Homo sapiens: one gene and its partners. The protein of the gene in region 1 interacts with the protein of each later gene in a biochemical or structural test. Each region holds a gene or a part of one and is shown in the gene's direction. Other genes may lie near its edges.

What was found.
Region 2: the proteins of S100A1 (region 1) and PGM1 interact in far-western blotting, tested with the Homo sapiens proteins (one study listed by BioGRID).
Region 3: the proteins of S100A1 (region 1) and RPS6KA1 interact in a biophysical measurement, tested with the Homo sapiens proteins (one large-scale study listed by IntAct).
Region 4: the proteins of S100A1 (region 1) and PPID form a complex in vitro, tested with the Homo sapiens proteins (one study listed by BioGRID).
Region 5: the proteins of S100A1 (region 1) and PLB1 form a complex in vitro, tested with the Homo sapiens proteins (one study listed by BioGRID).
Region 6: the proteins of S100A1 (region 1) and PYGM form a complex in vitro, tested with the Homo sapiens proteins (one study listed by BioGRID).
Region 7: the proteins of S100A1 (region 1) and TRPM4 interact in a biophysical measurement, tested with the Homo sapiens proteins (one large-scale study listed by IntAct).

Annotation. Positions count from the first base shown.
Region 1 is NC_000001.11:153,627,016-153,631,233, forward strand, and holds the start of S100A1 (protein S100-A1), read left to right. Parts: upstream 1-1,418; 5' UTR 1,419-1,481; intron 1,482-3,493; 5' UTR 3,494-3,506; coding exon 3,507-3,647; intron 3,648-3,995; coding exon of another isoform or gene 3,996-4,063; exon of another isoform or gene 4,064-4,218. Other genes in the region: S100A13 (protein S100-A13), read right to left, coding at 515-583, 1,106-1,222, 3,996-4,063. UniProt on the Homo sapiens protein: Small calcium binding protein that plays important roles in several biological processes such as Ca(2+) homeostasis, chondrocyte biology and cardiomyocyte regulation.
Region 2 is NC_000001.11:63,599,911-63,603,410, forward strand, and holds part of PGM1 (phosphoglucomutase-1), read left to right. Parts: intron 1-3,500. UniProt on the Homo sapiens protein: Catalyzes the reversible isomerization of alpha-D-glucose 1-phosphate to alpha-D-glucose 6-phosphate. The mechanism proceeds via the intermediate compound alpha-D-glucose 1,6-bisphosphate.
Region 3 is NC_000001.11:26,546,761-26,550,260, forward strand, and holds part of RPS6KA1 (ribosomal protein S6 kinase alpha-1), read left to right. Parts: intron 1-106; coding exon 107-223; intron 224-428; coding exon 429-510; intron 511-3,500. UniProt on the Homo sapiens protein: Serine/threonine-protein kinase that acts downstream of ERK (MAPK1/ERK2 and MAPK3/ERK1) signaling and mediates mitogenic and stress-induced activation of the transcription factors CREB1, ETV1/ER81 and NR4A1/NUR77, regulates translation through RPS6 and EIF4B phosphorylation, and mediates cellular proliferation, survival, and differentiation by modulating mTOR signaling and repressing pro-apoptotic function of BAD and DAPK1.
Region 4 is NC_000004.12:158,711,012-158,713,396, reverse strand, and holds part of PPID (peptidyl-prolyl cis-trans isomerase D), read left to right. Parts: intron 1-136; coding exon 137-278; intron 279-2,385. UniProt on the Homo sapiens protein: PPIase that catalyzes the cis-trans isomerization of proline imidic peptide bonds in oligopeptides and may therefore assist protein folding. Proposed to act as a co-chaperone in HSP90 complexes such as in unligated steroid receptors heterocomplexes.
Region 5 is NC_000002.12:28,597,060-28,600,559, forward strand, and holds part of PLB1 (phospholipase B1, membrane-associated isoform 1 precursor), read left to right. Parts: intron 1-945; coding exon 946-989; intron 990-1,592; coding exon 1,593-1,701; intron 1,702-3,500. UniProt on the Homo sapiens protein: Calcium-independent membrane-associated phospholipase that catalyzes complete diacylation of phospholipids by hydrolyzing both sn-1 and sn-2 fatty acyl chains attached to the glycerol backbone (phospholipase B activity).
Region 6 is NC_000011.10:64,749,975-64,753,474, reverse strand, and holds part of PYGM (glycogen phosphorylase, muscle form), read left to right. Parts: intron 1-287; coding exon 288-402; intron 403-970; coding exon 971-1,072; intron 1,073-1,403; coding exon 1,404-1,551; intron 1,552-1,819; coding exon 1,820-1,878; intron 1,879-2,008; coding exon 2,009-2,150; intron 2,151-2,891; coding exon 2,892-3,099; intron 3,100-3,500. UniProt on the Homo sapiens protein: Allosteric enzyme that catalyzes the rate-limiting step in glycogen catabolism, the phosphorolytic cleavage of glycogen to produce glucose-1-phosphate, and plays a central role in maintaining cellular and organismal glucose homeostasis.
Region 7 is NC_000019.10:49,164,292-49,167,791, forward strand, and holds part of TRPM4 (transient receptor potential cation channel subfamily M member 4), read left to right. Parts: intron 1-1,749; coding exon 1,750-1,924; intron 1,925-1,930; exon of another isoform or gene 1,931-2,887; coding exon of another isoform or gene 2,888-3,500. UniProt on the Homo sapiens protein: Calcium-activated selective cation channel that mediates membrane depolarization. While it is activated by increase in intracellular Ca(2+), it is impermeable to it.

The DNA of each region.
Region 1 (4,218 bases):
CCGCCCACACACACTCTAACCGCTCCTCCCAGCAGAGAAGCACAGGGTCTGGCAAATGTCCCCTGTGGTCAGAGCTGGCTCCGTCTGAACAGACCCATTTTCTCTGCCCCGCTCCACCCTTACCTCTCCTCAGCGGCAGCAGGGCAGAGTGCTGAACCCAGGACCCCACAGATCCTCCCCGCTCCTGTCTCCCGGTGACAAGGGTCCTGGAACGGGGCGTCTCTGACTCCCTGCTCCAGGACGGGTTTAGTACAGGCACTCACAACCCCCTGGGGTGCGGCGGGTGGGGCTGGAAGAGGCATTCTCTTTTCTGTCCACCCCGTCACACACTCCTGCACGCGCTGTTGCTCGATCATCCAAAGCTCCTTCCTGAATTCCTGTCTGAGCTGGCTCTGGGGGAGGGACCTGGGAGCCCAGGAAGAAAAAATGATCTCCAGCCTCCCTCCAGGGTCAGCCATGAGACTCACCCGGCAAGGAGATGGGGTAGAGTGAGCTGGAGCCTCAGGGCTGAGGTTTATAAGCAGCGGGGAAGGAGGAGAGAGCTGCTTCCAAGCCCGGAGGTGTCAAATTTCCGTGGTCGATTCTGAAGACCAGAGACAGCCCAATCAGGCCGCTTGCCCTGAGCCCTCAGGTCTGGACCCGGGCTCCCTGCCAGCCACACGAGCGCCCCCACTTGGTCAGGGAGAGGAGCTGCCTGGACAGATCTCGTTCGGCAGGGGTCCCAGGGTCCTAGTCCTCTCAATACTGGGGGCTGCTGCCACCATACCCATGTCTAATCAGGAGTGTGTATGCTGAGGGGGGAAGAGGGAGGCAACCAATCAAGGGAGCTCAACACTGAGAGGCCCAATCTGAGACACACACAGAGGCCCCTTGGAATGAGATCCCACAAAGGATGCTACAGACCAAGATCCCTCAGAGAACCCCAGGCTGAGGCCCCACACACAGAGGGGGATCCAGGTTGAGACCCCCAGAGAAGAGTCCTGGATTGAAATCCCTCTGTGGGTTCTCAGACTCCCAAGACTAAGTTTCTCACTGAGGGTCCTCTCAGTGAGGCCCCATGGAGGAGCCACAGACTAAGACCCCCTCAGCAGAATTCCCCCCTTACCGGGCTCAACCAGCACAGCCAGCCACAGGTACTGCAAGGCCCAGCTTGGGGTAAGACATCCAGTGTCCCTCCCAGGACCTCCTTCCCACCTCTTTCCCCTGCACCATCCACTGCTGCCTGGAGAGAAAGGAACGGGGCAAGCAAGGCTGGGAAAGAGACAAGGGCCGCCTGTTCCAGCCCAGGAGACAGAGGGCGCCTCTGTCTGCTCCTGGCCCCTTGCCCCACAGGGTGTTCGTCTGTGAAGGGGTGGAGTCGGTGGGGGGGTCAGCGGGGGAGGGACTGTTGAAGACAGGTCTCCACACACAGCTCCAGCAGCCACATTTGCAACCTTGGCCATCTGTCCAGAACCTGCTCCCACCTCAGGCCCAGGCCAACCGTGAGTACCCTGCCCCACTGGGCTAGTCCCTGGCCTGCCAGCTTCAGGGAGAGGGGTCTTCAGAAGGGCTCCAAGAGGCTGGGGACCATAGCACTGTGGAGCACTGAGGATCTGGGAGGAGTCAGTCAGGGTGAGGGCAGTTTGGGATTTGGGGGAGACAGGGTTTGGAAGGTGGTGATGAGAGACAAATGAACTGAAGGTCGGAGAGAGAGCTGGCAGCTCAGCAAAGGAGGAAGCCAGTGGGGAACCCACCATGAGCTTCCTGACCGCCTGGCCCTCCCACAGGGAGCCCTCAAGTCCCTGCCAAGGCCCCCTCTGTCTCCCAGGTGTTGGGAAGGGTCCCAGCCCTCCCCTGCCTCGCCTCCTGTGGGGTAAGAAGAGAGCAGATACAACAGCTGTTTCTGCCCCCACCTCTCCTGCCAGCCTTAGTCTCTGCCACCCCCACCCTGCCTTGCCAAGAGCTCAGGTCCCGGGGGAGTCTGGGGGTGGCAGGGCAAAGCTCCCATGATATGGGGAAGCAGAGATGTAGGGTGCTGTGCCCCTTCCCAACTCGACCTCCACAGGACCTCCCCTTTCTCCTCCTCCCATTTTTGGCCCAGACCTCTTGACTCCTCTTTCCCCCCATTCTTACCTCTTTGTTTCCCCATCTCCCCTGCCCCCAAGTCCTCTCAGAACTGCCACCACGTAAAATCCCAGGCTGCTTTAGGGCTCCAGGTGACCTCCAGCTGCCCCTCTGGCATGGAGCAGGTAATCAAGCTACCAGCACCCCTCCCTCAAGCACCCCTTATCCCCTCATCAGCCACAGCTTGGGTTCCATCTCCCCCATGTCTCTGTGACAACTGCTTCTCAGGTCCGGAGTTCAGATGACACTCACAAGGGCCCCATTGAAGAACTGGGATGTCATTCGATCAGGGGCCATTGTCCAGCCCCCTAGGCCTGGGGAAGGATGGGGACATCTGATCCGAGACACCTGAGCTGCCCCCTCTGGGGTTGTGGAAGGCCAGACTGTCCCAGGGCCAAGGGAAAGAGGCCCCCCGGCTTGGCAGTCTTCTCTCTCAACAGACCACTCCTTTCTCCTTTCTTCTCCTACTCTCTCCCAGCCCCTTGAACTCAAAGGACCGCATGCTTTCAGCCCTTTCTCTCCCCCAACACACAGCAGCCCCATTCCCCTTGCTCCCACTATCCCCGAATCAACCAGGAGTGAGCAGTTGCAGGGACAACGCCTGCAGGTCTCCTCTCCCACTCCCTGGGAACTCTGGCTCCAAGGAAAAGGCTCAGACATTCCTCTCTCCCCTTCTGCCACCCACCAGATGGAAGGGATAATTTTGCAGAGGCAATGGGAGCATATCCCAAAGAAGCCAAAATGACATGTTCAGGAGAGAACAGAGTTGAAGGACCAAAAGGGGCCCCCAGCTGCTGACAGGAAACTCAGAGTCAGTGAGACCTCCCTCCCCCAGAAGGCGTACGCCACCCACTGGGGCTGCCATCCCCTCTACCAGGCTGACCGAGGGTACCAGACTGACTCCTTGCTAGGGGTGGGCAGCAGAAGGAAGGCTGTAGTGGACACCCCAGCCCACCACCCTCAACAGCAGAGCTTGGCTATGCTAGACAGGCAAGGTCCAGGGTAAAAATAGAGCCAGAGGAAGCATGGCCCAGTCCTGTGACCACCCCTGCCTGCCCCACCCTCCTCAATCCCTGCCTGGGCAGCCACTGCAGACATCTACCACAGGCCTCTGGAGCCAGCCCAGCTCCAACTGCTCTCTCTCCATGCCCCAACCCTGATTCCCTCTGGCTGGGGTACAGACTGAGGGACACAGAGAACAGGCCTGCACTTAGGTCTCTTGGGGTTTCCCTCACATTGTAAAATCTCAGGGAAAGATCAATTGCAGTAGGGCTCTAATCCCACAGCTATTTGAGCTGTCAGCCAGGGCCAGTCCTGAGGGTTCCCCTCACCTAGACCCCAGGTACTCCGGGCCTGGTCCTCAGCTCACTTCCATGATGGGGGTGGGTAGGTGCACTGCTGCAATGGGCTCTGAGCTGGAGACGGCGATGGAGACCCTCATCAACGTGTTCCACGCCCACTCGGGCAAAGAGGGGGACAAGTACAAGCTGAGCAAGAAGGAGCTGAAAGAGCTGCTGCAGACGGAGCTCTCTGGCTTCCTGGATGTGAGCATAGAGTGGTGGAGTGGGAGTGGAGTGGGTGAAGGTTGGGGGAATGGGGTGGACACCCCCTTGCTATCTCCCCACCCCACCTCCAGCTCAGCCTAGCCTCTTTCTTTCCTTTCCCAGGCTTCTCTCCTGGGTTTTTCCAGGCTCCCCTACTCCTCCTGGGTCAAGTCAAAATGCCCTGGTTTATTGATCACCTGTTAAGTGTTAGGCCCTGTGTAGATTCATCAATAATAAGACACACAGACTTAGAAGGGAAAGATTGACACTTAAAAGTAAACCATGAACTCCAGGAAATACACAGAGCCTTAACAGATGTACCAGAAAGGGTTATGAGAGATTATTAACCTGATTGAAGTCAGATGGCTTTCCTGAAGAGGTGGCACTTGAACCATGGATTTCCATTGGAAGATTATCTGGGTAAATGCAGACATTTTAGGAGGAGGTAACTGAATGAACAAAAGCATGGGAGAAAGAAGAATGTGGAGCATGTCAGTAGTTTCATTCAACTGGCATGAAGGATGTAGAAAACTAGGCTGCTAAGGCTAACCAGGGCCCCAAAGTAAAGAAG
Region 2 (3,500 bases), about 90 Mb from region 1:
CTTTCCATCCAGGAGCATACAATCTTTTGGGGGAGATAAGACAGAAGAAACACATAGACATACAAAGAACAGAATTAGAAAACATGCTGAGCTCAGCGAGAGAGAGAACATTTTGGATTGGGAAAGAAGAGGTGCCTGCACCTAAAACCAATTATGTCTTGAAGAGCGGATAGTGTGCGATAGAAGATGGGGCTACCCTTCAGGAAGGGGACCTGCCGAGAGAAGTGAGAAAGAGAGAATAGGCAGGACTCTTTTTTAGAGCCGGACACTTAGTCACTAAACAATCTTTGTTACATAAAATACTTAAATCAGCTTGCTTGGGACTTTTTCTTTCTTGGCTTCACTAATGCTCTTGGTGAAACATCTTTTTCCTTTTTCTTTTTTAATCAAATCTAATGCTCATGAAATTTTGTAGAAGAAAAAGAAAAACGTTCTCCCTTTCTGAGATAGAGGGTTTGTTTTGTTTTTGTAAACAAGATAACAGGGAAGAGTGCTCTACTGTTTTGGAAAGAGTGACTCATTCAATAAATATTTATTGAGCACCTATTAGGTTCTCGGTACTACGGATACAACAGTGAATTGAACAAAGTTTCTGCTCTACAGAGCTGTGGGGTTCTCGTTGAGCCTGACAGATGATAAACGTGTCAAATGAAGATAAGTTCTCTGAAGAAAAATAAAACCCAGTAAAGGGGACAGCATTAGAGGATGGGCTGCTCTTTTTAGTGCAGCAATTGGGATGTCTGATAAACCTCATGAGAGCAGAGACCTGAATGAAGTGAAGGAGTGAGCCATGCAGATATCCGTGAAAAGACTTCCAGACAGAGGAAGAGTTAGATGGAAAGGATAAACACATATAATCATTTAATGTTATAAAATTATGCCTCAGGTAAATAAATGTAGCATACATTTTATCGTACAAAGGGTCCCAATATACTATGACATTTTGCATATAGATTATAAGTATTATTCTATTATAAATTTATCTTGGGATAATAAGATGTGTAATCAACATTGATCAAATATTTAACAATAATTTTTTTCTCTCTTGGACTCTAGGGTAGGGAAAACTTTTCATCTACCCTCCTAGGTTATATACTGGGGGCTTGCAAATTAAATGTAAAAGACAAATGAGCAACAAAAAGACATTTGTGGGAGTTTACAGAAAAATGTGACAGGAGGCAGTTAGACTTGGGGGCCTATACATCATCTCAGTAGGGGAAGGCGGAAGAGGAGAAGAGCATTTGCTGGAAACCACGACTTTAGGAGAGATAAATCAGCCCTTAAGAGACTAGATAGGAGATGTGGTAGTTTTATGCCAGTGTCTATTTAGTTATGGTAATGAGTCGATCTTCCCTGGTTGTGAAACTCCAGAGTTCCTTTGGGGCACACTGCTTTTAAGACAGATGAAGGAGTTTAGTAAAAAGCCTATTTTTAAATGACTGGCTCAAAATAATTTTTATGTCACAGTGGTGTAGTCTGGACCCCTTTAGACTTTAGAAGAGCTTTCAGCAGATTGATTTGAGTGAGCTACACTTCTAAGAAAGTGAAGCAGGAAAGTTTGAACTGATCCCTTTATTCTCCTCCAAGTTCCCTTGAGGCCCACACAGACATAGCCAGTTATTCTGCTGACTTTGAAGCTGTGCTCACAGTTGGGATCCACCTTTGAAAAATGGCTCCTGAGTGTGTTAAGTAAGTAATGGCTAGCCGAGGGCTTCAGTTGGGAGGACTGCGGAGAAGACTTTTCTCCCCTGGGGTCCTCAAAGGGGAAAGAAATCACAAGGGGGCAGCATAGGGAGTTGTTTGGAAAGGGTGAGAAGGCTGTGCTTAGTGTTGGGATACGCGGATGGATGTAAGCTGGGTTTTGTTTTGTTTAGTTTTTTAAACTTCAGCTGTTGGAAGTCCTCCTTCCCATAGCTTCTCCAAATCACCACTGAGCTGATTCCCCAAGGCATAAAGACAGCCCTGAATTAACACAGTGGGGAATGCTAATTAAGTCATGCCAATAAAGATTTAATCATGAATCAGAAACACTTGGAAAATTATGTTTTCATATTGGAAAGATGTTCTTTTTTTCTCTATGAGTACCCCAAAGTGTTTTTGAAGGATGAAATGCGATAGGTGGTAGGACAGAAATATTTGGTTGACTTGTCCAGTATGCTAATGGTGTTGGAACAGGGACTCCAGTCTTCTGATATTTCATCTGGTTGGTCTTTTCCATAAATAAATATATCCCAGAGCAAGTAGTTCTGGGGATTGTTATAATATGCTGGTTAATAGCATGGAGAAACTGGCTTGGGCAATGTTAAGTAGGAGTTTCAGAGCTTTTAATATATGAGTACTGAGAGTTTGTAAAAGGACCCCAAACAGAAGAATTTTGGGAAATACCAATCTATACCATGCTGGGTTGATAGGACCATCTATATTATACAAGAATCTTCTCAGATTTAAGTTTCTTCTTTTTAAACTGCCATTAAGGGCATGCAGGGAAGGTGAAATTTTGTTTTAATATCCATGTATACCATATGGCTTATTTTGGCAACTAATATATGAATTTGTTCTTGGCTGCTTTGAGTGTGATTGATTCAGCCCAATAAGTATTTTCTAACCAGGTCACCACATGTAGAGTTATGAGGTAAGTGACAAAAGTCCTTCTGACCAAATATTAGTCCTGTATGTTGTACTCCAATGTGCTCACAAGTGAATTGAAATGTTGCTCAAGAGTGAATTGAAATGGCTACTACATTGTGTGAGTCCGGAGGGCTTAATCTGCATGGTGTCATAGCCATTTGGGGGCTAAACCGACAAGTGTGAGGATTGTAAACTGGCAGGGAGCTCAAAATGAGCTGATTGGTGAAACTTCATGGTGATCTCGTAGGTTGCAGCAGAGAACAATACAGGCCCAGTCCTCACATGCTTGGGACTTAAGGTGAAGGTTTGTGTTGGAGGCTAGGTGGGTTACGGACAAGCAGAGAACTGCCACAAGGTGCTGTCAGCACTGGGATGGAGGTGAGCAAAGGAGGCTAGGAAAGCATAAAGGAGGCGTGCCTGGTTCCAGCAGAGGGAGTAGGGAAGTGACAACTAAAACCAGACCTGAAGGTGAAGAGCAGAGAGGAATGTTCCAGGCAGAACCATAGGTGAGAGAATTTGGCATGTTTAAGAGAAAGCTCCCCTCACTGCCCCCCAACTCCGTATTTTTGTTTCATACTCTGCAAGGAGCAACTGCACTAAAAATGTACCTCATGTTTTCTATTTTACAAGTTACTGCCACATGCATGGCCTTATTTCCTGTCTACAACAAACCTTTCAGGTGTCCCAGGTCACAAAGTCAGGAAAAGAGCCTGGGAACTGCCCCCACTCTTCCTAGAATGTAAGGGGTGTTGGGCCATGTTCCAAATACCAGGTTCCCACTGAGAGTGGCTGAGGATAATGCTAATCTGGGCAGTTTTAAGCAGGAAATGAGTATGTGGAGTAGGGAAGTGCGGAGATCTTGCTATGTAAGT
Region 3 (3,500 bases), about 130 Mb from region 1:
CTTTAGGTTCCATCTGCTGTGGTCTGGTGGGAATGGACTTGGGCAGGGGAGCCTCCTGCTGCCTGGATGGGGCCCACCATGCCCACCAGCTCTGTCCCTCCATCAGGATGAGGGCGTCCTCAAGGAGATCTCCATCACGCACCACGTCAAGGCTGGCTCTGAGAAGGCTGATCCATCCCATTTCGAGCTCCTCAAGGTTCTGGGCCAGGGATCCTTTGGCAAAGTGAGTCATGAGCCCATAGCTGTGAAGGCAACACTCGTCATGTTAGAGGTGGGGGTCAAGGGTCACCTAGGGGCCCAAAGGATCAGAGGTCACCTTGGTACCCAGGGAGAGCAAAAAGGTCAGCTTGGGGCTCAGAGAAGATAGAGGTCAGCCTGGACTCAGACCTCTCCCATCTTCTGCCCTGCTTCCTGCTCTGCCTTCTCAGGTCTTCCTGGTGCGGAAAGTCACCCGGCCTGACAGTGGGCACCTGTATGCTATGAAGGTGCTGAAGAAGGCAACGCTGAAAGGTGAGTGGGGACACCTCCCTGTGCAGAACCCAGGCTTGGCTGAGGGAGGCAGCCCAGACTTCAAGGGCCTTGGGTCTGGCAAGGGAGACAGCTCTGTCTTCAGGAGCACCTAGTTCAAAGGTGGAGAAACAGGCCTATTTCTCAGCTATCCCTCGCCAGCCAATCCTCCTCCCCCTAAGCCAAGTGCTAGTGACTGGCTGTGAAGGTCTGGAAGGTGGTAATAGGGTAAATGCAATGTGTTTGTCAGGGGGCGGGGCCCTCAACTACCAAGCTGGTCAAGCAGAGGCATTCTGACTGTTGATGCTAGAAGAGTCTGGGGGAGACCTCTGTGGCCCCTAACTCAGGGGCCTGAGAGAAGGGCGTGAGTGAAGAGGCAGGGAGCCCAGGGAGGCAGCTGGGCTAGGCAAGAGAGGGTGAGTCCAGGCAGGGCCACAGAGCTGGATGGCAGAGAGGTTCAGAAGGGAGCCCCGAGCCAAGGTTAGAGTTCTGGGGACTTACAAAGGGTGTGAAGATGGTTGGTAGTGGGCTTTGGGTTGGATACTGACCACTTGGCCTGGGAACCAGTGTGACCACTGACCCGGCAGAGTCATAGCCAAGTCTCTCTTTAAATAAGTCAAGGCCGGGCGCGGTGGCTCACACCTGTAATCCCAGCACTTTGGGAGGCTGAGGTGGGCGGGTCATTTGAGGTCAGGAGTTCAAGACCTGACCAACATGTTGAAACCCCGTCTCTACTAAAAATACAAAGAAATGAGCTGGGTGTGGTGGTGTGCACCTCTGATCCCAGTCAGAGCCAAATCCTAGCTGGGGAGGTAGTGGGGGCAGTAGGAGGCGTCAGCCTTAAGGACGTTATGGGTGGCTTTGGTATCCTAAGGCCAGCCTGGTGGGTGTGGAAGTCATCCCCCAGGAGGTATGGTGGCAGCTTCAGAGGGAGGAGAAAGATGAAAAGCCTGGGTCCCTGCTGTGAAGGGCTCACAGGCTGGGCAGGAGAGGCTAAGCATACCCGACAGTGTGGTGCAGCCGGTGCTGTGACTGGTGTGCGTGGATATCCGACGCGCTGGGGAGCTGGGAGTGGTGGTGTAGTCTTGTAGAGGGTGGGCCCAGAGGCCAAGGGGACACCTAAGGAGCGGGAAGCCTTGGAGGATGAGTGGATTTCTCTAGACCAAAAATGTTTGAGGAAGGGGACCCTGGGAAGGAGAAACTGTTTGCCTGAACTAAAGTGTAGAGGTGGTTTGAAAATGTAAGGTAAGCTGGGTGCTGTGGCTCATACCTGTAATCCTAGCACTTTGGAAAGCTGAGGCGAGTGGATCACTTGAGGTCAAGAGTTCGAGACCAGCCTGGCCAACATGGGAAAACCCCATCTCTACTAAAATACAAAAATTATCTGGGTATGCTGGTATGCACACCTATAGTCCCAGCTACTCAGGAGGTTGAGGCACAAGAATTGCTTGAACCCAGGAGGTGGAGATTGCAGTGAGCCGAGATCGCGCCACCATACTCCAGCCTGGGCGATGAGAGCGAAACTCCATCTCAGAAAAAAAAAAAAAGAAAAAAGAAAATGTAAGGTGACCAAAATAGTTAACTCCGGTGTGGTCCTTGTCATGTCTAATGAGGAAAACACAAAAATTAAAACAGAAGAAGGGGACCAGCTCCTGCAGCCCTGTGTGCTGACATAGAAGGTGTGTTGGAAGGCAGCTGCAGCTTCTACTTGTAGCAAGGGCCAAGGATTGTGTCCTGAACAAGACTCCGGAAAGACATGCAGGAGGAGTACATTGGCCAGATCTCCTAAGATAAGCAGCTGTGAGCATCAATTCTGGAATGGCAGTGACGAATGAATAGAATTCATACTAGATGGATGGACTAGTGAAGGCTTTGGGACTATGAGGCTGGAGAGGAAACTGCCAATCCAGTACATGGACCAAAAAAGCCTTTAGTTTTGCATTGTGTGTATTGCTCAGACATTTTGTCTGGTCTTAGTAAGCACTCCCTAGCCTTCCACCTCTCCTTTTAATAAAAGTCAAGGCTGGGTGCGGTGGCTCATGCCTGTAATCCCAGCACTTTGGGAGGCCAAGGTGGGTGGATCATTTGAGGTCAGGAGCTCAAGACCAGCCTGGCCAACATGGTGAAACCCTGTCTCTACTAAAAATACAAAAAAAATGAGCCAGGTTTGGTGTGTCTGTAATCCCAGCTACTCAGGAGGCTGAGGCACTAGAATCGCTTGAACCTGGGAGGCAAAGGTTGCAGTGAGCCAAGATCACACCACTGCACTCCAGCTTGGGTGACAGAGTGAGACCCTGTCCCATTAAAAAAAAGTCAAAGGACACATGAGAGGTCTCAGTCAAGGGGTAATCAATATTGTGATAAACTTAGTTGAAACACACTGCCCAAAATGAACCTAGGCAGCCATGTCCAAAAGCCTGTTCTTTTTTTTTTTTTTTTTTTTTTCTTTCCCGAGATGGAGTCTCACTCTATCGCTCAGACTGGAGGGCAGTGGTGTGATCTCGGCTCACTGCAACCTCCGCTCCGCAGGTTCAGGCAATTCTCCTGCCTCAGCCTCCTGAGTAGCTGGGATTACAGGCACATGCCACCACGCCTGGCTAATTTTTGTATATATATTTTTTTCTTTTTTGAGACGGAGTTTCACTCTCGTTGCCCAGACTGGAGTGCAATGGTGCAATCTCGGCTCATCACAACCTCTGCCTCCCGGGTTCAAGTGATTCTCCTGCCTCGGCCTCACGAGTAACTGGGATTACAGGCCCACGCCACCACGCCTAGCTAATTTTGTATTTTTAGTAGAGACAGGGTTTCTCCATGTTGGTCAGGCTGGTCTCAAACTCCTGACTTCAGGTGATCCGCCTTCCTCAGCCTCCCAAAGTGCTAGTATTACAGGCATGAGCCACCACGCCTGGCCAATTTTTTTTTTTTTTTTTTTTTGAGGCAGAGTCTCACTCTGTCACCAGGCTGGAGTGCAGTGGCGTGATCTCGGCTCACTG
Region 4 (2,385 bases), on another chromosome or scaffold:
AAGTGTGATCATTAAGATTATTAATAGCATTTTTAGAGCTTTTTATATCAGAAATGACATAACACTTCTGGACATAGAGAAGAGTAATTCCTGTTTATGTGGTCTTTCATACTGCTTTTATTAATGCATTCTGCAGATACGTGGACAGTTCAAAGGCTGTTATTGAGACAGCAGATAGAGCCAAGCTGCAACCTATAGCTTTAAGCTGTGTACTGAATATTGGTGCTTGTAAACTGAAGATGTCAAATTGGCAGGGAGCAATTGACAGTTGTTTAGAGGTAAGTCTGTTTGATTTTGAACTTTTTGAATAAGTTGGATTAAGACTTAGTTTGAATAGTAGCAACTTTTATATACATTAATATATCTTATTGCATAGGACCTAATGAGGCTTAAGAAAACATTTTGTTTCTAAATATTTTGGACCCTCAGTTCTTTCTCTACATTCATTTTGCTTATAACTCTGTGTCACTTAACAGCTATGAAGATCCTTGCCTTTTTTTCTCAAAGCACATATATCAGCTCATGTATTCACTTAAGAGCACCTATTGTGTGTTAGGCATTAGAAGACAAAGTCAGAAATGATTAAGATGTGGGTTATGGAGTCAGTCAGGCATGGCTTTTTTCTTCTTCTTTTTTTTTTGAGACGGAGTCTTACTCTGTTGCCCAGGCTGGAGTGCAGTGGCGCAATCTCGGCTTACTGCAACCTCTGCCTCCCGGGTTCAAGTGATTCTCCTGCCTCATCCTCCCAAGTAGCTGGGATTACAGGCATGTGCCACCATGCCCAGATAATTTTTGTATTTTTAGTAGAGACAGGGTTTCACCATGTTGGCCAGGCTGGTCTCAAACTCCTGATCTCAGGTGATCCACCCGCCTTGGCCTCCCAAAGTGCTAGGATTACAGGTGTGAGCCACCGTGAAGTAGTTATAGAGAGTTATATAACACAATGTAAGGCATTTAGTGTAGTGCCTGGCACATTTTAAGCACCTAACAGAGACGAGTTATTTTAATTAAAAGATCCATACCCTCAAGAAGCTTAATAAGTGATTCAGGATAGGAGGGGGTCAGTTTCAATTTAGGTTCATCAGGACTTGTGTATGGAGAATGGGTTCTATTGGAACAGGTCATTTATCTTTAGGAGGTCATCCAGGTATGCTAACTGATAAAGCTAGAAAGGTGGCAGTTTTACCTTCCTCAAATAGAGCAATTATGACTCTCTTCCCTGTTGTATAGTTTGAAAAGTTTTCCAAATGAAACTTTAAGAATTTTACATATTAAGCCAGGCACCTAGACTAGCTATGCTCAGAGCAAGTAGAACTAAAATGAGATCCTAATTTTGTAGGGTAGATGGAATAAGGGATAGGAATATATTTAGAAGGGATCATACAACAGAGGAAAAAACTTATCAAAAGAAAAGATGGGTCTTCACTCTGGGTTTTTTTTTGTTCTCTGTCACCCATGCTGGAGTGCAGTGATGCAATCAAAGCTCACTGCAGCCTCAACCTCCTGGGCTCGGGTGATCCTCCTACCTCAGCCTCCTAAGTAGCTGGGACTACAGGCCCTTGCCACCATACCCAGCTGATTTTTAAATTTTTTGTAGAGATGGGTTTTTGACATGTTGCCCAGGCTGGTCTCTTAACTCCTGGGCTCAAGCTGTCCACCCGCCTTGGCCTCACAAAGTGCTGGTATTATAGTTAAGAGCCTCTCTGCCCAGCCTCGATCTCTTTTTGACCTGTGAGGCAGGTAAAATCTGAGTATTGGCCATTAAAAGATGTTACATAAACAAAAGATAATTTTAAAATGTTTGTTCTAGGGGAGAGACCTGATGCATAAAGTCTCTTAGGTTAAAAGACCTGTTGTAGGTAAGAACCTAGGTTGGGTATGGTGGTTCATGCCTGTAATTCCAGCACTTAGGGAGGCCACGGCGGCGGGCAGATCGCTTAATTCCAGGAGTTTGAAACCAGCCTGGGCAACATGGTGAAACCCTGTCTCTAAAAAAAAAAAAAAATTAGTCTGGTGTGGTGGCACATACCTGTAGTCCCAGCTACTTGGAGGCTGAGGTGGGAGGAGCACTTGAGCCTGGGGGGTTGAGGCAGCAGTGAGCTGTGATCAGGCCACTGCACTCCAGCCTGGGCCACAGAGTGAGACCTTGTCTTAAAAAAACAAAAAACAAAAACTTAAGAGTTTATAACTTAAGAGTTATTAAGTTATTAATGTTCCTAAAAAACTTATAATTCAAGTAAAAAGTGTATACAAATGTTTCTTCAAAATGATTTTATCTTAAAAGTGTTAGTTCAGGCCCATTCGGGAGATTGAAACCACAGTGGGGAGCATATTGGAAACTAGAGAAATGTCTTTCTCCTCCATGTCCATTCAGTGCCCTCTGCT
Region 5 (3,500 bases), on another chromosome or scaffold:
GAGACCATCCTGGCTAACACGGTGGAACCCCATCTCTACTAAAAAACAGAAAAAATTAGCTGGGCATGGTGGCGGGTACCTGTAGTCCCAGCTACTCGGGAGGCTGAGGCAGGAGAATGGCATGAACCCGGGAGGCGGAGCTTGCATTGAGTGGAGATCACACCACTGCACTCCAGCCTGGGCGACAGAGCAAGACTCCGTCTCGAAAAAAAAAAAAAAAAAAATCCATTGACCTGGAATATAACATGCTGGGATTCGAAAAAGAGACACAGAAGAAAAAGAACAGTAAATACCATATATATGAATATCAGATTTTGGTAAAATAGAAATAGTACTTGTCTTCTGTGTGTCCTACTCAATTTATTAATAAATGCATAAAAGGAAACAAAATAGGGTGTACCTTGAAGTTAGATTAAATGAAAATTAGATGGGGCATTGAAAGGTAGTGAGCAGCCACCCTTCTGAACCTTCTATTGGAATTTACCTGACTGCTGAGCAGAGAAGAGCTTATCTATTTTCCAAAGGCTTCCAGCTCAAATTGGGTTTCAATGACTTTTAACAAGTTAATTAACCTCTGTGCACCTCATTTTCTTACTCTGTAAAATGGACATAGTCACATCTACATCACTGGCTTGTTGGGAGATGTGAAATCACAGAATCTAGTGCATGTCTGGGCACATAGTATATACTCAGCTAAGCATTCTCCCTCCTGATCTGGTAAAGAAACAGCTCTCTCATCTTCAAATCCTGGATTCGGTAGGGAACCAATATGTTAGGGGCTTAAAAATTTTCTCAGAATTCCTCAAACTCAGAGATGGGTCTGGCCCATCTCAAAGGTGCCGATGGGCACTAAGAAGGGTGGGGGCTGCTCTTGTGTAAAGTTCCTAGATTGATTCAACCAATATGTCTCTCCCTCTCATTCACTGGCTTGCTCACTCCCTACAGTGCAGGAGGGGACGGCTCCCTGGAGAATGTGACCACCTTACCTAGTAAGTAACCATCAGGGGCTTGAATCTGTCTACTGTTCCACCCATCTGGCCCCTTGGCTTCCCGAAAGTGCCTCCCAGGTAAGCAGCAAATGACATCTGCCTTATGGCCCAGCATTTAAGTAGGAGACAGGAGGCTATGAAAAAGCAGCCGAGGCAGGTAAAATAAACACCAGATTTAGAGCCTGAAGATCTGAGTTCAATCCCTGGTGCTTCAATCCCTGGTGCTGGGTTCAATCTCCGATGTGCTTGTCAGGTGACCTAGGGCAAGTTACCCGCTATTTTTAGCCTCAGGCTTTTCCAACAGGCCCAGGAGGTGCTGAGACAAATTAGGTAGTGACCCTTCAATGCACTGTGAATTGTATTAATACAATTTAATACAAGAGTGAGAGGCTCTTGCCACCCTGGCCCACCTAGTCATCAGGTCATGTCAACTTAGGGTGGTCCCAGCTTATGTCCAGGACACACACTGCCTCCCTGCCTCTCCCCAGGAAGCATGAGGATGATAACACAGCCCACTTTGGGGACCTAGGTCCCACAGTACCAGAGAAGCTATTCTGGCTTTCTGTTCTGAGCCGTCTGCATCCCATTCACCTTCTCTTCCAGATATCCTTCGGGAGTTTAACAGAAACCTCACAGGCTACGCCGTGGGCACGGGTGATGCCAATGACACGAATGCATTCCTCAATCAAGCTGTTCCCGGAGCAAAGGCTGAGTATGGCATTTGGGGAGGGAGGGAGCCTGCAGAGCAGGGAGTGGAATGTGGATAGTACCCTTTAAGACCATGGGGCTGGCCTCTATGTGCAAAGGGGCACTTAGCCACTTGTGAGGCTCAGGCTGCCCTCTTCCCTGCTGCCCCTGTGACGAAGGTTGTAATAGGCCAGAGAGGCTGTGGCCTTGGAGAGATGCGATGCCCCTATAGGTTCAACTCCTGACCTTGCCTTCATGTGCAGCATGTTCTCATAATTGGACGAATCGACTAACCTTATCCAATGTTTACAACTCACCAAGGCACAACAGTGCTAGAGAGATCCACTCCCCGCAGAACCTCACAAGTGGCAATTTCCCAAAAAGATCAGAGAGGGCCAACCAAATGGATGGGGCAAGCCTTCTGGCCCTAGAGGCATCTGGAGCAAAGAGTCATGTCCCCTCCCTAGCCCCATTATGGAGCTAACAAGAAATGGAATGGAGAAGCCCAGAGGTACCCAAAGAAGAGCAACTGCCCAGCCTCCTGGGGTGGGCTCCAAAGGGGCCCCCACCCTGCTCCTAGAGGCCCCAGCAGCCTAGGTCTTCTTGCTCTATGCAGCTCCTGGCTCAGCCATCTGAGCCTCTGTCACATGTCATCTTCTTGCTCAGGCCCACACCTTCTGGTTGAGGGGTGTGGCCCCCAGACCCACTCCCTCAGCCTGGAAAGACTCTTGGTAATAGAAACAGCTGGGGACAGATGGTCCCACCACCGTGTCCTAGGAGATCACCTTGCTATGGATCCATCCCACCCAGGTCTATAACGGGGCCCTGAACAAGTGGAAGTGGGGAGCACAGACGCCTGAAATCTATTCCTTCCATAAATTATAATTTTGGCCTTTTTTTAGATAGAGTCTCATTCTATCACTCAGGCTGGAATGCAGTGGCACAATCTCTGCTCACGGTAACCTCCGCCTCCCAGGTTCAAGTGATTCTTGTGCCTCAGCCTCCGAGTAGCTGGGATTACAGGCTTCTACCATCACGCCCAGCTAATTTTTGTATTTTTAGTAGAGATAGGATTTCACCTGTTGGCCAGGCTGGTCTCAAACTCCTGACCTCAAGTGATCCACCCACCTTGCCTCCCAAAGTACTTGGATTACAGGCATGAGCCACTGCACCTGGCCTTTTTTTGTTTTTAAGATGGGGTTTCACTCTGTCACCTAGGCTGAGTGCTATGGCATGATCTCAGTTCACTGCAACCTTCACCTCCCAGGTTTAAGCAATCATCCCACCTCAGCCTCCCTAGTAGTTGGGACTACAGGCATGTACCACTATACCTGGCTAATTTTTCTGTAATTTTTGTAGAGATGGGGTTTTACCATGTTGCCCAGGTTGGTCTCAACCTCCTGGACTCAAGCAATCCACCCACCTCAGCCTCCCAAAGTGCTGGGATTACAGGCGTGAGCCACCAGGCCTGCCACCTTCCATAAATTATAAACCCAAGCATGTGTAGAGCACATATGATTCCCTACCTCTTTTTGAAAGAACCATTTAGATAAGTTTACAAACAAAAGAATATACGTAAGAGAAAAATCGCAGCCATTGGAGGAAATAAAGAGGAAGCCTGTGTGTCGATATGAACATTTTTACGGTTATTATGTTTGAGCATCAAACTCAGCTTCCTGGCAGCCAGAGTGAAAAGAGGAAGCATGCTAGAAGTTTCATAGGTCTAATTTTAGGATCTAAACTAGTCTTCCAAAGGAGATGAATGGTCTCTTAGCATGGAATCCTAAAGGCCCTTTTGCATGTGGAGTCCCAGAAAGGTGACCA
Region 6 (3,500 bases), on another chromosome or scaffold:
ACTCCACGCCTCTGTCACACAGAAGCCCCGCCCTTCACCGACCACTCTCTGGTCTCTGGGCCCTGGCGCCTTTCACAGGTGGCGTCATTCTTACAAGCACAGCAGCCCCTTCCAGTGCCGCCCTGTCCTGAGATGACCTCCTCTTACACACAGCACCCCCAACCTTCCCCAGGTCTGCATTCCCTGCCCCAGGCCCCTTTCAGCAAGACACCAGGGTAGGGGCCCCAGGGCAGAGGCCTTCATTGTACAGGGGTGAGTGGTGACCCTCGTCCAACCTCATCCTGCAGCTTCAAAGACTTCTATGAGCTGGAGCCTCATAAGTTCCAGAATAAGACCAACGGCATCACCCCTCGGCGCTGGCTGGTTCTGTGTAACCCCGGGCTGGCAGAGGTCATTGCTGAGGTGAGAGGCCACCGTAGGGCCAGTAGAGTCAACATGGGTCCCTGCAGGGATCAGCTGGGTATGGTCGTGTAGGTGGTTCACTGCATCAGGGCTCCCAGCTGAAGGCTGAAATCCCTCCTGCACTGTGTTCCCCAAGCCTCGCATCCACCTGGAGGAGGGACACCATCTTAATTGCATGAGGGTGCTCTGTGTGCTAATGGAGGCCCTGGCTGTGGAGGTGAACACAGCAGAGGGAGTCATCCATGGGTCACATCTGAAGTGAGCCTGGAAGGGGGCAGATATCTGGTAGGGAAGGCGCAAGGTCATGCTGGCGTTAGGAAAAGGCCAGGAAGCCAGGAAGGCCTGCTGGGGTCAGGTGGGGTCAGCCATCAGAGCTCAAGGACGGGAGGGGAGGAAGGTGCATGGATGCCCCGTGCCCCATCTGGGCGGCTGGAGGAGGAGGGGCTGGGAGGGCCCCCAGAGCAGCCTGCTGGGTGAAGGGGGCTTGGCTGACCTGGAAATGGCCCCTTCTGTGTTGGGAGGAGGGAGGACATGGGGATGGGCTTGGCTGAGAGCCGTCTTCCCATAGCGCATCGGGGAGGACTTCATCTCTGACCTGGACCAGCTGCGCAAACTGCTCTCCTTTGTGGATGATGAAGCTTTCATTCGGGATGTGGCCAAAGTGAAGCAGGTGGGGAGAGATGCAATGTGGGACAGCTGTGCTGTGTGGAGAGCGCTGGAGGGGCCAGATGTCTGGGTCAGGCGTGGCAAATAGAGCTCATCTCTCCTGCCAGCCCAGGCCGTTGGTGGAAGTTGCCTGGAGTCTGTGGTGGGAAGGCATCATCTGACCTCACATGAACAGTGCTGACATTGATTAGCAATGTCTGCCCTGGTACAGGAGTGGACAGAAGTAGCCAGTGAGCCTCCTGGTAGCCATCCTCCTGGGGCTGACTGGAGTGTGGACTGTAGGATTTCCTGAGGCTGTGGCCTGTTGGTGAGCCCTTCCCCGTCTCTGCCTCCAGGAAAACAAGTTGAAGTTTGCTGCCTACCTAGAGAGGGAATACAAAGTCCACATCAACCCCAACTCACTCTTCGACATCCAGGTGAAGCGGATTCACGAATATAAACGACAGCTCCTCAACTGCCTCCATGTCATCACCCTGTACAACCGTGAGTGGCAGCCACTCTACCCTGTCTCTCAGTGCTCCCCCGTGTTCCTGCGGCATAGTACATATTGCCCAACCAACATCTCCTTTGGACTTGGGACTACTCTTGGGACATGGAATTATCCCCATTTCACAGATGGGCAAACTGAGGCTAAGAGAGCATAGCAAGTGATTGTTCGAGTCAGGCCTACGGTGTCCCAGCCCAGCCTCTGTCAGGAGCTACTACCCAGAGGGAAAGGTAGGCCCACTGGATCCCTCTCGTTTCTCCACAGGCATCAAGAGGGAGCCCAATAAGTTTTTTGTGCCTCGGACTGTGATGATTGGAGGGAAGGTGAGAAGCCAGGCTCCAGCCCTGGGCTCCCGTCCTTTGATATATCCAGGTTGAGGTCAGCCCAGCTGAGTTGCAGGATAGGGGGTGGGGGGCCAGGCAGTAGAGCTGACCCCAGACTTTGTCCCCTCAGGCTGCACCTGGGTACCACATGGCCAAGATGATCATCAGACTCGTCACAGCCATCGGGGATGTGGTCAACCATGACCCGGCAGTGGGTGACCGCCTCCGTGTCATCTTCCTGGAGAACTACCGAGTCTCACTGGCCGAGAAAGGTGGGTGCTGCCAACAGGGACCCTAGGGAGGCTCTGACTAGTTCAGTCTCAGGAAGAGGTATCAGTCGTCTCTTCCTGGGATACTTGTACTTGAAAGAAGAATCTGGAGAGGGCAATGCTTAAACCATGAGGAGGCCAGGCGCAGTGGCCCATGCCTGTAATCCCAGCACTTTGGGAGGCCAAGGTGGGTGGATCACCTGAGGTCAGGAGTTCGAGACCAGCCTGGCCAACATGGTGAAACCCCGTCTCTACTAAAAATACAAAAATTAGCTGGGCGTGATGGCAGGTGCCTATAATCCCAGCTACTTGGGAGGCTGAAGCAGGAGAATCACTTGAACCTGGGAGGCGGAGGTTGCAGTGAGCCGAGATCACGCCATTGCACTTCAGCCTGGGCAACAAAAGCAAAACTCCGTCTCAAAAAACAAGAGGAAACAAAACAAAGCAAAAACCCCATGAGGATGCCCTCTAATGGTGGAATTTCAGGCAGTACAGGGTGAAATTACCTTCAAATCTGCAACAGAGGTGGGGAAATCCAGGTTGGACCTAGATGGTCAAGAATCAACAAGAGGTAGAGGGCAGTGGGGGTGCGGTGTGAGAGGGAGGCTTGGCTGGTGAAGACTGGGAGTTTGGGGTGGGGCGACTCTGAGTCCAGCTATGCCTGGGGCCAGCCTAATCTGAGAGTCCCCAGCTGGTGTGAGGGTCTTCCCTGAGTTGACTTGTCCCCCTGCTGCCACCCCACAGTGATCCCAGCTGCAGACCTCTCTGAGCAGATCTCCACTGCGGGCACTGAAGCCTCAGGCACCGGCAACATGAAGTTCATGCTCAACGGGGCTCTGACCATTGGCACCATGGACGGGGCCAATGTGGAGATGGCAGAAGAGGCGGGAGAGGAAAACTTCTTCATCTTTGGCATGCGGGTGGAGGATGTGGATAAGCTTGACCAAAGAGGGTATGGGGGTCAGGGTTCACGGGCAAAAGACACCCAGGTGTGGCTGCTGGAGAGTGGTGCTGGGAGCAAGCGGCACGTCTGGAAAGACTGGTCCAGGCCCAGCAAGGTCTTGGTCATGGCCAGCAGGATTCTGGGAAACTTTAGAGGGCGCTTACAGCAAATAAGGTTAATGAAATTGGAAAAGAAAGAAGTAATATAGAACTGAAGGAAAAGGAAGAGAATATTATATCAACCCTAAGAGATAATATTGTTTGGGAAATGGAAGTAAAAAAATCCTTGCTCTACGCCGGGTGCGGTGGCTCACACCTGTAATCCCAGCACTTTGGGAGGCCAAGGCGGGCGGATCACAAGGTCAAGAGATCCAGACCATCCTGGCTAACACGGTGAAACCCCATCTCTAC
Region 7 (3,500 bases), on another chromosome or scaffold:
TCCCTTCCTTCCTTCCTTCCTTTCCTTCCTCCCTCTCTGTCTCTCTCCCTCCCTCCTTCCTTTCTTTCCTTAGTTTTTTTTTTTTTTTTTTTTTTTTTTTTTTTTTTGAGATGGAGTTTCGCTCTTGTCTCCCAGGCTGGAGTACAATAGTGTGATGGCTCACTGCAACTTCTGCCTCCTGGGTTCAACCAATTCTCCTGCCTCAGCCTTCTGAGTAGCTGGGATTACAGGCACCCGCCACCACGACCAGCTAATTTTTGTATTTTTTTTAGTACAGACAGTGTTTCACCATGTTGGCCAGTCTGGTCTCAAACTCTTGACCTCAGATGATCCACCCGCCTCAGCCTCCCAAAGTGCTGGGATTACAGGCATGAGCCACTGCGCCCGGCCTCTTGCTTGCTTGCTTGCTTGCTTGCTTGCTTGCTTGCTTGCTTTTCTTTCCTTCTTTTCTTTTTTTTGAACAGGGTCTCACTCTGTTGCCCAGGTTGGAGTGCAGTGGCGTGGTCACAGCTCTCTGCATCACTGCAGCCTTGATCTCCCAGGCTGAAGTGATCCTCCTGCCTCAGCCTCCTAAGCACATGCTGCCACACCTGGCTAATTTTATTTTATTTTATTTTATTTATTTATTTATTTTTAGAGACAGGGTCTGACTATATTGCACAGCTGGTCTCGAACTCCTGGGTTCAGGTGATCCTCTGGCCCCAGCCTCCCAAAGTGCTAGGATTACAGGCATGAGCCATCATACCCGACCCTACATTTTCAAATGAATTTCTCATTCTCCAAACCCCTGTTACTTACTCAGGTGCCAATCACCTTTAGAAAGCAAGAGAGACTTGTGCATTTCTTTAGGTGGGGGAAAGTTTTATATGTGGAAACTTTCCAAATGGAAACCTGTTCCATTTGGCACAGAGAGGAAGAAACAAGCCACACAGAAGCCAAAGACAATGAAAAGCAAACAAAGGTGTTTCCCTACTCGCTAGATGGCTGTTGCCAGCTCCATTTTTTGAGCCCGAGGCCTGCTTTTCTTGTTCAAAAGAGTAGCAAAGGGTTAGGCATTCAAAAATATTCTAGCACCCGGCTGAGCCTCTCTCCTTGACAGTCGTCAGGAGAACTGAAAAAGGAATGACTTTCTCACTGCGTTATTCAAGGTTATTTTAAGCTCCGTGTGAAGTTCGTGTCGCGTTGCCTCTGGCTGGGACTGGTATGCGAGCCTCATTTCAGGAAACACGGCGTTCTTTCCCTGGCTCCTCATAGCTCCGTGGAGTAGGCCGCGCTATTATTGTCTTTTCATTAGAGGAGGAAATTTAGGCTCAGAGAGGTGAAGCCGCTCGCCCAAAGTCACACAGCCGCGTCAGCCCCGAGCATGCGGGCTCTCCCTGAGTTACCCGCTGGATGTTCTTTCTCGTGTTGAACGTCATGTGTTTGGATGGGGGCACAGGGCACAGCAAGGATACCCCCAGTGGCCCTCTGCCTTCCCACTTGAGGCTCCTCAGGTGACAGTGACCTGCTTCTTCCTGCTCAGGCTTTCTGGACTCACTGGCTTCCTTCCCGTGGGGAAAGGGGACCGTCCTCGGCTCCAGTCTCTCCCCGAGGCCGTCAGAGCCAGGGCCAGGGGCAGCGTGGACTCTGCCTGCCTCTGTGGGTGTGGACTCAGTGTCGACAGCCCCCTCTACAGGAGCATGAACACGCTGACAGGGTGCTGGGGTCGGGGGGCAGCCCTGGGTTCACGCTCCGCCCTCGCACCCCCAGAGGGACCTTGTGCCAGTGTGGGCGCCCCCGGACCGCCCACCCCGCAGTGGCCATGGAGGATGCCTTCGGGGCAGCCGTGGTGACCGTGTGGGACAGCGATGCACACACCACGGAGAAGCCCACCGATGCCTACGGAGAGCTGGACTTCACGGGGGCCGGCCGCAAGCACAGCAATGTGAGGCGGGCCTCTGTGGGCGGGGCCCGGGCACCAGGGGGCTGCATGCTCGGGGCTCCAGAGTGGAGCCGGGACGCCCGCCCTGAACCCTGGCCCCTCCGCCCATCCCTGTCTTGGCTCTCTTTGTCCCCTCCGCCCCACCTATCTTCTCTCTGAGGGGGTCCCGTTCTCTCTGCGTCTCTTTGTCTCTGTCTCCCTCTGTCTCCGTGTCCCTCTCTCTCTGGGTCTCTGTCCCCCTCTCTCTCTGGGTCTCTGTCCCCCTCTCTCTCTGGGTCTCTGTCCCCCTCTCTCTCTGGGTCTCTGTCCCCCTCTCTCTCTGGGTCTCTGTCCCCCTCTCTCTCTGGGTCTCTGTCCCCCTCTCTCTCTGGGTCTCTGTCCCCCTCTCTCTCTGGGTCTCTGTCCCCCTCTCTCTCTGGGTCTCTGTCCCCGTCTCTCCGGGTCTCTGTTTCCCCTTTTCTGTGGGTCACTGTCCTCATCTCTTTGGGTCTGTGTTTCCGCTTTTCTCTGTGTCTCTGTCCCCGTCTCTCTGGGTCTCTGTCTCTGTCTCTCTGGGTCTCTGTCTCTGTCTCTCTGGGCCTCTGTTTCCCCTTTTCTCTGTGTCTCTGTCCCCGTCTCTCTGGGTCTCTGTCTTCCTCTCTCTGGGTCTGTTTCCCCCTCTCTCTGGGTCTCTGTCCCCATCTCTCTGGGTCTCTGTCTGTTTCTCCGGGTCTCCGTCCCTGTCTCTCCGGGTCTCTGTTTCCCCTTTTCTCTGGGTCTCTGTCCTTGTCTCTCTGGGTCTCTGTCCCTGTTTCTCCGGGTCTCTGTCCCCGTCTCTCCGGGTCTCTGTTTCCCCTTTACTCTGGGTTTCTGTCCCCATCTCTCTGGGTCTCTGTCCCTCTCTCTCTGGGTCTCTGTCCCTCTCTCTCTGGGTCTCTGTCCCTCTCTCTCTGGGTCTCTGTCGCCATCTCTCTGGGTCTCTGTCCCATGTCTCTGGGTCTCTGTCCCTCTCTCTCTGGGTCTCTGTCCCTCTCTCTCTGGGTCTCTGTCCCTCTCTCTCTGGGTCTCTGTCCCTCTCTCTCTGGGTCTCTGTCCCCGTCTCTCCGGGTCTCTGTTTCCCCTTTACTCTGGGTTTCTGTCCCCATCTCTCTGGGTCTCTGTCCCTCTCTCTCTGGGTCTCTGTCCCCGTCTCTCCGGGTCTCTGTTTCCCCTTTACTCTGGGTTTCTGTCCCCATCTCTCTGGGTCTCTGTCCCTCTCTCTCTGGGTCTCTGTCGCCATCTCTCTGGGTCTCTGTCCCTCTCTCTCTGGGTCTCTGTCCCTCTCTCTCTGGGTCTTTGTCCCCGTCTCTCTGGGTCTCTGTCCCCGTCTCTCTGGGTCTCTGTCCCTCTCTCTCTGGGTCTCTGTCCCATCTCTCTGGGTCTCTGTCCCATGTCTCTGGGTCTCTGTCCCTCTCTCTCTGGGTCTCTGTCCCATGTCTCTGGGTCTCTGTCCCTCTCTCTCTGGGTCTCTGTCCCCATCTCTCTGGGTCTCTGTCCCTCTCTCTCTGGGTCTCTGTCCCTCTCTCTCTGGGTCTCTGTCCCCATCTCTCTGGGTCTCTGT